Regions from separate parts of the Homo sapiens genome. Here region 2 is linked to region 1. A link means that fine-mapping ties the variant in region 1 to the expression of a gene that starts in the linked region. Tissue or cell type: pancreas. Region 1 holds a variant in brackets; the other region holds the start of a gene. All regions are shown on one strand. Distances are between the middles of the regions.

The links. PIP is the estimated chance that this variant, and not a neighbour inherited with it, causes the effect.
Region 2: it holds the start of RPS7, and the variant in region 1 is fine-mapped to the expression of RPS7 in pancreas (GTEx, PIP 0.95).

What each region holds. Positions count from the first base shown.
Region 1 is chr2:3,604,290-3,612,391 of GRCh38, forward strand. COLEC11 (collectin subfamily member 11) reads left to right here. Exons shown (of 7, transcript NM_024027.5): 2 at 26-181. The coding sequence starts at 52. Among named protein-coding and RNA genes, the nearest start is that of COLEC11, 13 kb to the left of the region's middle. The variant C/T (reference allele first, on the strand shown) is at 3,864.
Region 2 is chr2:3,570,636-3,578,737 of GRCh38, forward strand. RPS7 (ribosomal protein S7) reads left to right here and starts at 4,625. Exons shown (of 7, transcript NM_001011.4): 1 at 4,625-4,715; 2 at 4,957-5,049; 3 at 5,182-5,253; 4 at 5,852-5,995; 5 at 7,075-7,139. The coding sequence starts at 4,975. LOC124907726 (a long non-coding RNA gene) reads right to left here and starts at 4,474. Exons shown (of 2, transcript XR_007086196.1): 1 at 3,500-4,474; 2 at 1-603. RefSeq lists enhancers at 4,178-4,753, 4,754-5,330 and a silencer at 4,882-5,171.

The DNA.
Region 1 (8,102 bases):
ACTGTTTATTCCTTCCTCTGTGTAGGAGTTGGTGTCCTGCCTGCGCTCAGGATGAGGGGGAATCTGGCCCTGGTGGGCGTTCTAATCAGCCTGGCCTTCCTGTCACTGCTGCCATCTGGACATCCTCAGCCGGCTGGCGATGACGCCTGCTCTGTGCAGATCCTCGTCCCTGGCCTCAAAGGTAACCGCTCCCTGGACTCTGGGCTGCTGGGCAGTGGCCTCCGGGCCAGCTGAGAGACTCCCATGCAACTGCGCAGTTCCACGGAAAAGCACAAAGCCCCAGCAAATCTGCTTACCCCATTGGGTCTCAGTTTCCCCATCTGGAAATCAAGGGTTGGGTGACATGATGTCTAAACTGTCTTCGGCCATGGAATTCCTAATTCTGAAGATGGCAATTTATTTGCAACTCAGCCCTCTCCGGGGGGACCTTGCTGGAAGGCACCTGGCTTTCCGTCAGACCCTGCACACATGGCCTCGTGTGATCCTCCCCATGAGATGATCTCATGTGGACCATTTTACAGATAAGGAAATTTGAGGGTCAGAGAAAATTTGCAACTTGTGTTAAGTTCCCAAAGTGTGCTTCTACATTGCTTCCTGAGAGCTCTTAATATTTTATTTTAAAAATTAAAAAATCCCTGGTGGTCTAGTGGTTAGGGGAAAAAAAAAAGACAGGAACTTTTTTTTTTCTTGTTGCTTTGTCTGTAATCTGCTCCCGGATAGAGATAGTTCTGCAGGTGAGGCATGGGTGAGAAAGTCCCTGAGGCTGCGGTATCTGAAGCCTCCAGAGCAGCATCTTCAAGTAAGAAAATGACCAGCTTCTACAAAGCAGAGGCAACAGGTCCCCAAGCCTGGGGGAGCCCGGTGTGAAATGAAAATGTGGGCCCCTTGTTCAAAATTACAGAACCCAAGAAGGGACAGCAGAGTGTGTGCCAGTGTCGGGTGGCAGGGCCGGGGCTGCACCGGCCGCAGCAGAGTCCAGGCCGCCGCTGAGGGGAGTCACGTGGGTGCCGAGGAGGGGGCGGGGGAGTCACGTGGGTGCCGAGGAGGGGGCGGGGGAGTCACGTGGGTGCCGAGGAGGGGGCGGGGGAGTCACGTGGGTGCCGAGGAGGGGGAGGGGAGTCACGTGGGTGCCGAGGAGGGGAGGGGAGTCACGTGGGTGCCGAGGAGGGGAGGGGAGTCACGTGGGTGCTGAGGAGGGGGAGGGGCGGCCACGTGGGTGCTGAGGAGGCGGGGGAGGGGAGTCACGTGGTTGATGAGGGGGAGGGGAGTCACGTGGGTGCTGAGGAGGGGAGGGGAGTCACGTGGGTCCTGAGGAGGGGGAGGGGCACATTGACCTTTTGCAACCTGAATCCGGTCCGCCCCCTCCTCATCCGCGGTCCGCTTGGGCCTTCAGCTTCTCCTGTGGAGCGTCTGCGGCTCTTTTTATTGAAACATTAGAGAAAAGTAGATTCAAACCCATGATCAAAACAGTCACCACGAAAGACAAACCCTGCTCAGCCCGTGTTGTACAAAATGAAAAGGTCAGCCCTCTCCCGGGGCACAGGGTCCGGACAGCTCGGGGCCACCCTGCCAGGCTGTGCAGCTCTGGCTGGGGGCTTTTTTCCGGCTGTGTTAGCCCTGCTGTTGGAAACCAAGTGGACTGTCCTGCAGCCCAGACAAGCCCAGTGGCCTTTGTGCTTTTAATTGTGATAAATGTACCTGCTTTAGAAAATGTTTAATTATGTTGGAAGCAACTTAAACTGTTGGATGCCTACGGCTCTCTCAGAAGTTTTGGTGAAAGTGGCTTTGGCCCTGACTTTGTGGTAGCGTGTGTGGGTTTGTGAGTGGAACCTTCAGCTTTAGGTTGGAAACGGTGGCTGTGGAGAGCTGGACTTTTGGCTGTGGAGGTCACGTCCCTGCCCAATGTGGTGGGTGCCTCCGAGTCCCTACGGTTGTCTTCCCTGCGCCCTGCCAGGTCAGTAGCCTGCACTGGTGGGGGCCGTGGGGTGGGCTCCAGGGTCCTTTCTGGGCGCCGCCTTTCCCAGGTGCTGTTGGGAGGGTCCTTCCCAGCTGTCCACGTCCTGGGTCCCCTGGATGTGCTGTCATTTCCCACATGGGTAGGGTCCCTTCTCAACCTTTGCAGGCTGGGAAGTAGGGCAGGTCTGAGGGTGCTGTGGGTCAGCCGTCCTGCGTGACGGGTCACCTGTCCTCCCAAGCCTCGGCCTCCTGGTCCGTGAGGTTGGGGAGGCGATGCCAGCTTGGGGCTCTGTGGGGATGCAGTGGTGGCACCAGGAGTGGGCACACAGTGACCGGGGACCCAGCCCCTGCTCCTTGCTCTGGGACAGTGACTTACAAAGCACTAACCCTGTGCAGGCAGCGAGCCCGACCAGGGAGCAGATCAGGTGTCCGTCCAGCACGTGCCCCGCGAGTCCGCAAGCGAGAGGCGAGCACCAGGGGCAAGGAGCGGTTTAGAAGGATTCAGGATACCCAGCATGTCAGGAATTGGGTTACTCAATGGAGAAAATGGTGTGTGCCAGCAGACTTCATCCCTGCCGGCCCCAGCATGTGCCGTAGCCCCCCAGGGTCGCTGGAGGTCAAAGAGGAGAGGCAGCGTGCGGCACAGTGCCAGCTTCTAAGGAAACAGACACACACGCAGTCACCATTCATTAGACAAGCGTCCGTTGAGAATCCACCAGGCAGGCTCAGGGCTGGGATGAAGAAGCCGCGGCCTGTCTCCTCACAGTCCCGCCGTTCGGCCCCGGACACGGGGTGGCATCTGGTCTGAGAAACACAGCACGCGCCGCCCCCCCAACCCCCACAACCCCCTGTGTTTTGGATCCTGAAACCTCTGCCAACTCCACATTTGGCTGGAGAATCTTCCTGAGCACACGAGTCAGGCTGCCGCTGACTGCTGGTGGTGCTTGAGATGACATTTATTTGCCATTCCAGGCCATTTCAGATAATAATAATATATTATCTTTACATTTAGAGGGAATAATATATTGTCTTTACATTTAGAGAGAATGACAACTCCTTTTAATGGGAAAAAAGTCTTTTTTTAATGGTTAAAAAAATGGCTGTAGGTGAGAAAACATTTATCTGTATTAACAAATGTGTTTCCCAGAAATATGAAAGGTCATAGTTCTTCTTATAGGCTTTATCAAATGAATTTTTTTTTTGCTTTTTTTTTTTTTTTGAGATGGAGTTTCTCTCTTGTTGCCCAGGCTGGAGTGCAATGGTGCGACCTTGGCTCACTGCAGCCTCCGCCTCTCAGGTTCAAGTGATTCTCCTGCCTCAGCCTCCCAAGTAGCTGGGACTATAGGCGCGCACCATCAACGCCCGGCTAATTTTTGTATTTTTAGTAGAGACGGGGTTTCACCATGTTATCCAGGCTGGTCTCGAACTCCTGACCTCACGTAATCCACCCGCTTTGGCTTCCCAAAGTGCTGGGATTACAGGTGTGAGCCAACATACCTGGCCTATCAAATTAATTTTAAAATCATTTACTGCCATTCTTTAAAACAACATTGATAAAACCAGTAATGGGGCCTGAATAACATGCGCTGTGGGAGGTTTGCTCTTCTGACACCTGACGGCCTGTCTGTGCCGTCTCCCCTTGTGTAGAACAAGCCAGGCAGGCTGAGGTCCTGGCTTTCTCCTCTCTGACTTCCCATGGCCCTGGGGTGCCGTGGCACTTGTTGTGGCCAGCAGGGATGTGAAGTCGCTGGCACACGAGTTTGTTCAGCTTGTAAGCAGGTGGCGTGACAGTCAAGCACTGTCCACGGATCTTCCTCAACTGGCTATAAATATGTCGAAGTATCTTAGGTTCTCAATAAAATAACTGACATGCGCCTTCCTAGCTGGGTTGGAAATGACCCCAAATA[C/T]GATCTAGGTAAAAGCTTTTTGTTCGTAGATTTGTACATGATTTGCAGGGAAGCCAAGCAAACAGTAAATGTCAGCCACGTTTTGTTTCTTTGAGCGAGGAGAGAGCTGCGTTGTGGTGATGGTGGAAGTGAGCCAGCAGTTGAAATGTTAGCCTCTCCTGGTAGAGAAATAACTTGTCATTAGAACTTTATGTAGTCAATCATCCTGAAAATGAAAAGGATGTGGGAAAAATGTCATTGTGCTCGCTGGGTCTACATTACAAAATGCATGGAGTGTTGAGTGGGGACGTGTATAGAAATCCTGCTCTGGAGTCATTACCTGCAGGGACATACATCTTTATGACCCCTGGGACCAGTGGACAATGAACACTTCAAACCTTGCCAAATTGGCCAGGTGCAGTGGGTCACGCCTGTGATCCCGGCACTTTGGGAAGCCGAGGTGGGAGGATGACTTGAGCCCAGGAGTTTGAGTCTACCCAGGGCAACAGAGTAAGACCCCATCTCTGGAAAACAAAAAACAAAAACAAAACAAAACAAAAAAACAACCCTGCCAAATTGTGAACAGTGCTTGAAAACAGCCTTGGTTCTTAAGATGCGTGGACAGGGCAAGTCTACAAGGCGGAGGCGACGGGGACCGTGGAGAAACCAGGGCAGCCCCGCCGTGGATGGGAGGCCTCTGTACTCTCTGGTCCTCAGTGCTGTTGGTCCTGAACCAGGGATTAAAATACTTTTTCTCGTGACAACCAGCACGGTGTCTTCCAGGGCATATTTTGTTCAATCCCCATCAGAGCTGAGGAGGACCAGGCTGGGAGGGCTTACGCTGGGTTTTGCACAGGAAGGAAAGCAGTTTCTGACTCCAGGTTTGGGTTCCCCACACTGCAGGCACAGCCGTGAGGCATTTGGGGTGCCTGCTGCCCAGCACTGGCTGAAATGCGCCTGGCCCTGTACAACTACAGACACAGGTCCATTAAGCAGAGCCCTTGGGAGATGGCATGTAAGTGGATTTTGTGATTAGCTGAGAGATATAAAGAAAACGTGTGTTAAATCCTCTTCTTTAGAAAGTCTTGCTGTTTTTAATGACTTATGATTCTTTCTCTCCTGCTTTAGTAACGAGAGTTTGTGGGACACAGTGTAATGTGTGGTGCTTTTCAGGGTCTCTTTCCGTGCCTCCAGTTGTTACTATGAACTATTTTTCTTTGATTTTTTTTTTTTTTTTTTTTTTTTTTTTTTTTTTAGAGACAGGATCTTGCTCTGTCACTCAGGCTGGAGTGCAGTGGTGCACTTATAGCTAACTGCAGCCTGCAACTCCTGGGCTGAAGAGCTCCTCCCACATCAGCTTCCTGAGTGGCTGGGACTACAGGTGCACAGCAACACATCCTGCTATTTTTTTTTTTGAAATGGAGTTTCGCTCTTGTTGCCCAGGCTGCAGTGCAATAGCGTGATCTTGGCTCACTGCAACCTCTGCCTCCTGGGTTCAAGCGATTCTCCTGCCTCAGCCTCCAGAGTAGCTGAGATTATAGGCACCCGCTACCACGCCTGGCTAATTTTTGTATTTTTAGTAGAGACGGGGTTTCACCATGTTGACCAGGCTGGTCTCAAACTCTTGACCTCAGGTGATCCACCCGCCTTGGGCTCCCAAAATGCTGGGATTACAGGTGTGAGCCACCATGCCCAACCCCTGCTAATTTTTTTGTAGAGATGGGGTCTTGCTGTGTTGCCCAGGCTGGTCTCAAACTCCTGCCTTTAAATGATCCTCCTGCCTTGGCCTCCCAAAGTGCCAGGATCACAGGCATGAGCCACTGCACCTGGCCAACCAGTTTTTAAAAATCAGATTAGAGACAGGCAGATGGATGCAGGTGGAGGTTGGTCAGAAGCTATCATGACAAACTTGTCCTTACTGCTTTATCTTTAGGAGGAGAGGAGACGAGGGTGAGTAGTCATGCTGGTTAGTGAGTCTCGCTCTGGGGTTTTGAAGCCTGAGCAAGGTGTGGTAAAGACACACTGGCGTGCCAGCACATCCCAGCTTGGACATGTCACTTGATTCTCGTAGCTGTGTCTTCACCTCTAGAGTGGACATAGTGCCCGCCCCATGTAGGGGGAGAGGTGAAATTATTATGCAAATAAGTGAATGCCGTGTACAAACTCCAGGAGCTTTCTTAAGCAGTATGAGAAGAGCTGGCAGACCTGCTTAGTGTTAATTCTTTACGAGTACTGATGGAGCACCCGCCTTCTTCCTGGTGCTCTGGGGGACCGAGGGTTGGGTGAGATGGAGCTGTGTCTTCTCAGAGTTTTCAGCCAGTGGGAGAAAGAGCAGACTGCTGTCATGTAGGCGGTGTGAAATGCTTTATGAAGGAAACATTCTTCCGCCCTCATCTCAGCCACAATCACTATTGGCCTGGACCGTGGCATGGGTGGTCAGGTTATCCCCATGAGCTCCAGGCATGAAGTCCCTGGGCTGCCTACTGCCTCGGGCTCGTGGCTCGCTCTGCCCAACCACCTGGCTTCCCGTCATCCCCTCCAGCCCTTCCCCCTTGTCTGTGCACCTGCTGACCCTGTCCTCAGAACACTTCTTACTCTGTGCCTGGCTACCCCTGCTCAGCAGCTTAGCCTGAGAACCACCCCTCAGAGGGGCTTTTCGGATCTTGCCGTCTAAATTATGGCTCCTTTGTTGAGGTTATTGCCTCATTTTATTCTTGCGTCCGGTGTTGCTAATGAGAATTCTTATGTCCATCTGATTCTCATTCACAGGTATGCAGTCTTTAAACCTGTTTTTCCCTCCTGGGTAGCTGACAGCATTTTCTCTTTATTCTTGGTGTTCTGTGATGTTGCTCTGACATGTCTGAGTTACTTTTCTCTGATTTTCCCCGTGTGGTTCTCCGCAGGCCCTTTCACAGAGTTCTTTCATGGCTTTCCTTAGCACTGGGAAATCGCAGCTACTAAATCTTCGCAGCCACGAAGGCTTTGTTCCTCTCTTTCCGGAATTGCTGTCAGAGCGACATTGGCATTTGTGAGTTTTTCCTTCAACTCTCAACTTCGTAACTTCAAAACAAACAAACAAAGCCTGCATTTCTTATTAGTGCTGCCCTGTGAACAATGCTTCCTCCTCACCGCTGGCTCCACGAGGCCTCTTCATCCTGGGTCACCGGGGACTCGCCTTTCTGCGGAGTGGCTCCCGCACAGCGTCTCTGCTCGGCTCTTTCCGCTGCAGTGTGCTGTTGTTCCCGGACTGGCCTCTCCCATGTTATGAGGACCTCCATTCACCGATTGCACAGTCAGCGTCCGGCTGCTCCACTGTTCCGTCTTCTCTGTTCTTTCTTCTGCACGATGCTGGTGCCCCTGAAACCTCTGGGGATTCTTAATGCTGAGTTTATCTTGTTAGTGGATATTTCTTGCTAAACTGTCAATACTTCTCTTTTCTTCTTACAAGATAAGAAAGCAAACTTGAGAACTACTTGGAGCCTCAGAGCAGCATGTGGGTGTTGATCGTGGGTCAGCCCAGGGGCAGCCCACAGGCTTTTCAGTAGGTGGCCCTGCGGGGCTGGGGCTGTGGCACGGGGGTGATGTGGGGATGGGCCTGCCACCATCGCTGTGCTTTTCTCTTTGTTACTTGGATTTAAATGGAAAGTCCCCTCCGTGAGGCCAGATAATCAGCTTTGGGGATTTTGTGGAGGGATCTGTAATCTCAACTGAGCCTCTCTCCAAGACAAGGTGTGTGGGCCACAACGTGTGTGGGCGGCAAGCCGTCCAGGTGCCGAGGCAAGAGACCGAGGGCACGAGCTGGTCCAGTATGATAAAATATATAAAACAACAAGAGTTATACTCTATATGCTCTCTCTATATATAGGGTTGTTTTGTATATTTTATCATACTGGAACAGCTCGTGCCCTCGGTCTCTTGCCTCGGCACCTGGATGGCTGGCTGCCCACAAAGGTGCAAATGGAGAGTTATAGAGAAGTAAAGTTTACGTGAACGCTGGCACAATTGTGCAGAGAGGGAAGGTGAACTTGTAGCATATCAGCGCACACACGCGCACACATACACGTGCACACCTATGCACATGCGGACACACGCACACACATGCACCCACGCACCCACGCACACGCATGCACACATGCACACACATGCACACACACTCCCTGTCTGCAACCATTCAGAGGAGGGATAGTGCAACAGGTAAGAAATACGGCCTTATAAAAATGACTACAGAGCCGAGTCCCAGCCAGCAGAGTGGCCCTGTTG
Region 2 (8,102 bases), 34 kb before region 1:
GTCTGTGGCACTCTGTATAGCGGCCCAGATGGACTGAGACAGCGCCCACCTCCACCAAGTCCACAACTGCGGAATCAGCGTCTGCGTCCCACTGCGATCCCTGGGTGACCCGCTGTTTGTACACTGAAGTTGGAGACACACTGATTCTTAGAGAACATTTAACTAATGGATTTAATCCTCTCATTAATGGAAGACTAAGTTGAGGATCTGAAAGGTTAGATGATTGATCCAATTATACTTATGCTTGTTCTATAAAAATAATATTCAGAGACAGCAGGACCTTAAGAATCATTTGTTTGGAAAAATGACCTCTAATTACAAAAATCTGTGGTGGGTGGTGGAGAAGACCAAATCTCAATAGAAAAATGGTTAAATATCTATAGTCCCAGCTACTCGGGAGGCTGAGGTGGGAGGATCGATTGAGCCTAGGAGGTTGAGGCTGCAGCGAGGTACGAATGCGCCACTGAATTCCAGCCTGGGTGACAGTGAGAGACTGTCTCAAAAAAAGAAAAAGAAAAAAGAGGGCAACCCATTTCTCCAGGACTCCTGTCTGCAGCAGAGAGCTCTTCTCTTTCTTTTGCCTATTAAAATTCTGCTCTCAACCTAAAAAAAAAAAAAAGAAAAAGAAAAGAAAAAAGAAAAATGGTTAAAATATGAGCAGAAAACAATCACACAAAAACGTATAAAACGCTTTAAAATGGTCCTTGAACGTATGAAACCCATGGAAGGATGCCAACTTCACTCTGAATTAGAGAATGCAAATTAAATTACATTGCGGTCTCATTTTTCACCTGTCAGATAGAAACAAATTAAAAAGTATGATGACACATTCTGTTGGGAATGCTGTGGGAAAACAAGAATTCCCATATGACGCACAGCGCTTTTCTAAGGGAAGGTGGCAATGCGTAACAAAATTACTTATGCCTTTACCTTTTGAGGCTGAGATCCCACTTCTAGAAATTTATCCCAAAGGGGCTGCTCCAAAAGCATCCTAACGCATATGCCTAAGTTTATTTGTGGGGCATTGTTTAAAATTTCAAAATGTTGAGTATGACTCGGATGCAGTCCAAGTGTCTCCACAGAACACGGGCTGGGTGAAAGTGGTCTGACAGCCCAGCGGAGAGCGACGCCGTGGTGAAAAAGCATGAGGGAGGTCTCCTGAACTGACATGGAGGGATTTCCAGGAAATATGTTTAGGCGAACACAAAATGCAAAAATCAAATCCTGCTTTTGTGTAAGAATGAAGGAGAGGTAAGAAAATATACATTCAAGCAAAAAGAAACCCAGGAAGCATGAACCAGAAAGCAAGGTTGGGTGCAGGAGGGAAGGCAGGGGCCGGTGGAGTGTGGCCTTCTCAAGGGAGTGACCTCCTTAGATGGCTTTGACTTTCAGAAGCAGAGTGTTTCACATATTCAAAAGTCAACAAGGGCTGAGCATGGTGGCTCACACCTGTAATCCCAGCACTTCGGGATGCCAGGGTGGGCAGATCACATGAGGTCAGGAGTTCATGTCACCCAGGTTCAAGCGATTCTCCTGCCTCAGCTTCCCGAGTAGCTGGGATTACAGGCGGGTGGCACCACACCTGGCTAATTTTTGTATTTTTAGTAGAGACAGGGTTTCCCTGTGTTGGCCAGGCTTATCTCCTGACCTCAAGTGATCCACTCACCCTGGGTGGATTATCCCAAAGTGCTGGGATTACAGGTGTGAGCCACTGCGGCCCACCTGCATTGTTATTTTGAATGTATTTTCTCATAGTGTCAGATAAAGCAAGTAATTGTATTTTTGTGTTTAGGAAGCAAGGTTTTTATTACAGGAGAAAAGGAGATGCTATGATAGAATCGAGGATTTCAGAAGGAATTGTTCTGTTAGAAGTGGATTGAGAATGTCAATGTGAACTTGTATCTTTTATGAAAAAATTATTTTAAATGCCATCTTTCTAAGTTCTGTCCGCTGAAACGGCTTATGAGGAGCCCCACGATGCCTCCTGCTGCCAAAATTCTGGTCTCCAGTACTATTTTTCCAGAAAAACAAAAACAAAAGTATCAGCACTTCTAGGAGAAAAGGCTCATTCTATGTCTCAGGCAGAAAATTACAAGAGGAGCCTGGAATATCTTGTGCCAGAAAACAAGATGTTCAGACATTCATAGAAATGACAAGACTCGGCTGCTTATCTAAGAGGGGCCCCTCCTGGTCACAACTGAGACAATTTGAGGATCAAAGGAGAATATTGGCTGAGACTGATTGATGTACAGCAAATCTGAAATGTCCCATGTCCATAATGATACATAAAAGAGTTAACAAAGTGTTCTAAAAGTAAGTGGATTGCATAGATGATATTTCTGTTCATTGTCAATCATGTTGGTATTATCGACTCACTTATTGTATGGTTAAATAATAAAGAAGCTAGTACTAGTAAAACCAGGAAAACAATCTAATGTAATGATTAGTAGGCATTTCCTAACATAAAATTAGTAGAATGACCCTCTAAGTTGTGATTATGATCCTGAAACTACCTATTAAAAATACATGTGCAACCTCTATCAACTTCTATCAGGTTCTAGGTTTTAAAAATCACATTTCTTAGGATCTCATGAGGCTCAAAGCTAAAGAGTTAGAAAGGAAAAGCATTTATGTATATTAACAGCACATTAACAGCTAAAAAGAAAAACTCACATAATCATATTAGTTCATAGAAACAATGCATTTGACATACTCCAACATCCATTCATGATTTTATTTTATTTTTTATTTATATATTTTTTTTGAGATGGAGTCTCGCTGTCACCCAGGCTGGAGTGCAATGGCTCGATCTCGGCTCACTGCAGGCTCCGCCCCCGGCGGTTCACGCCATTCTCCTGCCTCAGCCTCCCGAGTAGCTGGGACTACAGGCGCCCGCCACCTCGCCCAGCTAATTTTTTGTATTTTTAGTAGAGACGGGGTTTCACCGTGTTAGCCAGGATGGTCTCGATCTCCTGACCTCGTGATCCACCCGCCTCGGCCTCCCAAAGTGCTGGGATTACAGGCGTGAGCCACCGTGCCCGGCCCATGATTTTAAAAAAACCTCTCAGAAATAGAAACAGAGGGAACTTCCTGAATTTGATTAAAAATACCTGCAAAATCCTAGAGCTAATATTATACTTAATGGTGAAAGACTGAATGGTTTTCCCCTAAGATGGAGAACAAGGCACGGATGTCCTTGCTCACCACTCCTATTCAACAAAGGACTGGAAACCAGAAATAACTTTAATTTTTTTTGTTCTCAAGTGATAGGTTCACAGAGAAAAAGCTTTACTGGATGAACTTTTAGATTACTACTTTTATAGAGCAGCAGAGATAAAAGCCAGGTCGAAAAGTGCATGTGGAGTAAGGAAATGGACCTAGTTCGACAAAAGGGCTCAGAACGACTGCCCAGATGAGATTGTAGACGCAGCTGTAGTTTACTTTCTATCTGGAAGAAACTTCAAGTTATCCTTAATTTTCCAAGGAGACAGTCACTTACCTTTTAAAAAACATTATTAGAGAAGCACCGGGCGGGAGCATATCTAGCATTAAAAATGTGGGATGAATACCATCTCTGCTTGGTAAAGGTGGTTGGGAATCCTGAGAGAGGGCACCTAGTGTGGCTTCTGCATTTTTCACAGTGCCTGGACCACGGCTGAAAGTAACTCTTGCATGACATTTGACAGAAGAGGAAACCGAAGCTCAGATTAAATTCCCTGTCCACAGCGGGATCATTCGGCACGAGTTCCTCCCTGTCTGGAATGCTCTTCCCCAGCAATAGATCCTGCGGCTCTTCCGTGTCTCAGTCTAATGTCATTCCGTTCCAGGATTCCCGACTTCTTAAAGCATAAATAATCCCTCCCCACCCTCTCATTGTACTGTTATGTAAGTTATTACAATATGTCATTATATATTTAGTCATACTGCTTTAGGTAATGTCTTCTCCACTGAACTGTAAGCTCCATGAGGGCAAGAGTTCAGTCGGTTTTACTTAATAATTAGCACCTAGTACAGTACTAGCATAGAATGAAGGCCTCGCAATTTTTTTTAAATTTATTTTTAGACAGGGTCTTGCGCTGTCGCCCAGGCTGGAGTGCAGTGGTGCAACCTCGGCTCACGGCAGCCTCGACCTTTCGGCTCCAGCGATCCTCCCGCGTCGGCCTCCGGGGTAGCTGGGACTGCAGGCGCGCACCACCATGACTGGCTAATTTTTTTTTTTTTTTTTTTGTAGACATGGGGTCTCGCCATGTTGCCCAGGCTGGTTCCTGAGCTCAAGTGATCCTCCTGCCTCGGCCTCCCAAAGTGCTGGGATTACAGGCGTGAGCCTCAGCGCCCAGCCAAGTTAGCCTTTTTTAAACGTCCTGTCTCCGGAGGTTGCCGAAGTTGGTTTTCTTCGGCCTCCTTCTCTCTCCCAGGCCCAGGGCTGGGACGAGGCCGGTTCCCGCCTGCAACCTGCACTGAAGACGGGAACCTTGGGAGCCGGTACCGGAACGCTCGGAAACGGCACCAAAGTACGAATCCTAGGGCGGAAAAGCGTTACCAAGACACTCGTCCCCAGAGCCGCTTCCTGGGACTCTCTAGCCTCCTACCGCTTCTCAGTGATGTTCCGGTTTCCGCCCTCCTCCTCGCGCTGTTTCCGCCTCTTGCCTTCGGACGCCGGATTTTGACGTGCTCTCGCGAGATTTGGGTCTCTTCCTAAGCCGGCGCTCGGCAAGGTAGGTTGGCGGCCTGCTCTCCGACAGAACTTTTCTTCTTGGGTTGAGGAAAACGCCTTTTGGAGTCAGGCCCTGGAGGGGCGAGCCTTGCTCACAGGGTGGGGATACAGCCGATTACCCGCCCTGTGCTTTCCGATGGCTTCTGCGGGGCGAGCGGGGCCTGGCCGGGGGGTGCGGGCGGGAGGGCGAGCCAGCGGCGCCTGCAGCCCGGGCCGCGTAACGCTGACCGCTGTGCCTTCAGTTCTCCCAGGAGAAAGCCATGTTCAGTTCGAGCGCCAAGATCGTGAAGCCCAATGGCGAGAAGCCGGACGAGTTCGAGTCCGGCATCTCCCAGGTGAGAGGGTTTCCCTGGGGTCTGGGGTGGGGGGAGGCGCCCCGCCCGGGAGGGGAGGCGGCCGCGCGTGTGTTGGGCCCGGGGTGCTCGGACGCGCGCTCAGGGTCGGTCCTGCTGTTCGTTGCTTCTTAGGCTCTTCTGGAGCTGGAGATGAACTCGGACCTCAAGGCTCAGCTCAGGGAGCTGAATATTACGGCAGCTAAGGTAAGCTGGCGCTCCCTCGGCTGGGAGGGAGGTTGCGGCGCGTCTCCCCGCGCAGTGCCTGAGAGGGTTGGACCTGGGTTACGGTTGATGATGACTTGCCGCCTGGCCGCCTAACCTGAACTCAGGTTCGGCCGTGTTGTTTGGGAGTGATACCGCCCAGGTGCGGGGAGTGGGGTTGCAGGTACCCTGCGGCTTAAGCTGTCCACATGCGGGCGGTGGAGAAACGTGGAGTAGGGAGGGCCTGGGCCCATTTCGGACCTTATTTGCCCTTACTTAGTTATAGATACGGCAAAGAGCTGTGGGGAGCTCAGGATGAGATTCTCTCTACCCTTAGCCCGGAGTTGCCGCAAGTGGGGGTGCAGAAGTGGTAGTGATTGGCCTCCTGGCCTGAACAGTCTCCCTTCCTGGAATAAGGAAATGTGAAGGTTGGAGAGAGATGAGAACATTTCCGAAGGATGCATTTATGATTAACTCAAAACTAGTATTAGTTTGTAGTGCAGCTACGGTGTTAGTGATAAGGTCTTCTTATCCTCTAATTTGACCACAACGTTTACTTTCTGAAGCAGTTAACACAGTGGATTTTTGTTTTTTTCTTTAGGAAATTGAAGTTGGTGGTGGTCGGAAAGCTATCATAATCTTTGTTCCCGTTCCTCAACTGAAATCTTTCCAGAAAATCCAAGTCCGGCTAGTACGCGAATTGGAGAAAAAGTTCAGTGGGAAGCATGTCGTCTTTATCGCTCAGGTATCTGTTCTACTGTTGCAGCACGTTTCTGTTTGTGAATTTTGCTAAAATTGCTTGTATTTAGACTGCATTGGTAGTTGGAGTCATGAAAACAATCCTTTTATGAATCCAATTGGGTAGAAAGATAAAGTACAGGCAGAGCGCCGTGGCTTAGGCCTGTAATCCCAGCACGGGGAGGTGGAGGCGGGTGGATCACTGTAGAGACCAGCCTGGGCAACATGGTAAGACCCTGTCTACAAAAAATAGAAAAAATAAGTTTTAAAAAGAAAGATAAAGTACGTTCTTTAATTAAGAGTCGAAACAAGAAGTCTGTAAAGTGACAGACTGCTGTGTTTTGAGTTATGAAAATGATTTCCCATATTTAAATTTCCACAAGTCTAGTGGGTTGCTTACATAGATGATCAAACTAAGAAACCTGTTACAGGCCGGGCCCTGTGGCTCACTCCTGTAATCCCAGCACTTTGGGAGGCTGAGGCAGGCGGATCACGAGGTCAGGAGATCGAGACCATCCTGGCTGACACGGTGAAACCCCGTCTGTACTAAAAAATACAAAAAATTAGCTGGGCGTGGTGGTGGGCGCCTGTAGTCCCAGCTACTCGGGAGGCTGAGGCAGGAGAATCGCGTGAACCCGGGAGGTGGAGCTTGCAGTGAGCCGAGATCCCGCCACTGAACTTCAGCCTGGGCGACAGAGCGAGACTCCATCTCAAAAAAAGAAGAAACCTGTTACAGTTCGGATGGGGGATTGGTGCAAACTGAAGTCTATGGGGAATGAAGTGCCAGGATTGATCTGGAATAAAAGTAGTATTCTGGGTCATAGGCATGGGGAAAGGCGTATCTGGGAGATTTTGTCCACTGGCGTATTAGTAGAGGCTGTGGATTCTGAATGATTTATTCAAGAATCAGGAAGTAACTCCATAGAAGGGTTTGCTCAGTCAATTGTTCGTCTAAGTTGTTTAGCCTTCTCGAACTTTGAACTTACCCTGCCATTCTTCTTGCTTTTAAAGCAGTATGGCAGTTACAGCTTTTTGTCAATTTAAAGTCTTTTTTCATTTTGTTACATGATAATTTTTACCTTACAGAGGAGAATTCTGCCTAAGCCAACTCGAAAAAGCCGTACAAAAAATAAGCAAAAGCGTCCCAGGAGGTGAGTATTTTAGTAGTTTCAGAAATGTGTGTACCCCTCTTATTAACAACTCTTAATTTGTTTAAGTTGTAGTTTATGAAAACAGATGTTCAAGTGGGAATTTTTGAGTAGCAGCATTTGGTTTCCTGTATAGTTGCACATGATACGTTTTAGAATTCTAGATGTAAAACATACATGTATTCATGTAGCCATTGTTTGCCTACTAGGTCAGTGCTGTCACAAGATGAGATGATTTCCTCCGATTATTTGTGCACAGGATAGGAATGATGAGAAGGAAATCATTACTTTAATTCTGTGATATAGCATGCTAGACACAGTTGACATGGGCTTGGATTTATCTTTGATTTTTATTTTTGCTGTGGATTGGAGGTAAAAAAATGTAGGTGGATTTTGGTGATAACATCACAGGTTAAAATATCACTGCAGTTGAAGATGCTGATGGAAAATGATTTATGAACTTGATTGACTTACAGGTTATCTGGCATAAACTCAAATATTGGTAGTTGTCTTCTTGAACTAGATCTTTTGGTATTTTGTTAGTCTCTGATTAGTATGTTGTTTTACAAATGTGAACTATTAAATCCCTGTGGACTCTTCCCTAAGGATGAGTTGAAGAAAAAAAAAATCCTAGTGTTGCCTGTGCCCTCTAACATGTTTAATTTGTATTGTTACTCTCAGTGGATGAGGAAACTGATCCAAGGCTGGGATAATTTGCTGATTGCAGCTAGTACTAGTAGTGCTAAGAATGTTTTTTTTTTAACTCGGTCTTGTTCTGAAAACCACTAGAACACAGTGTTGGGAGTCTGGTAATGTGTTATTGTGTCGAGCTGTGGTATGTGGAAAGGTAGGTGCCAGCTTTTCTAGAACTTGAATTCTATGGCTTAGTACTTTGAAAAACTTTTAAAGGCAGAGTGGCATAAGAATTTAGGATTTTTTTCCCCTAAATCATGACACTTAAAGAGG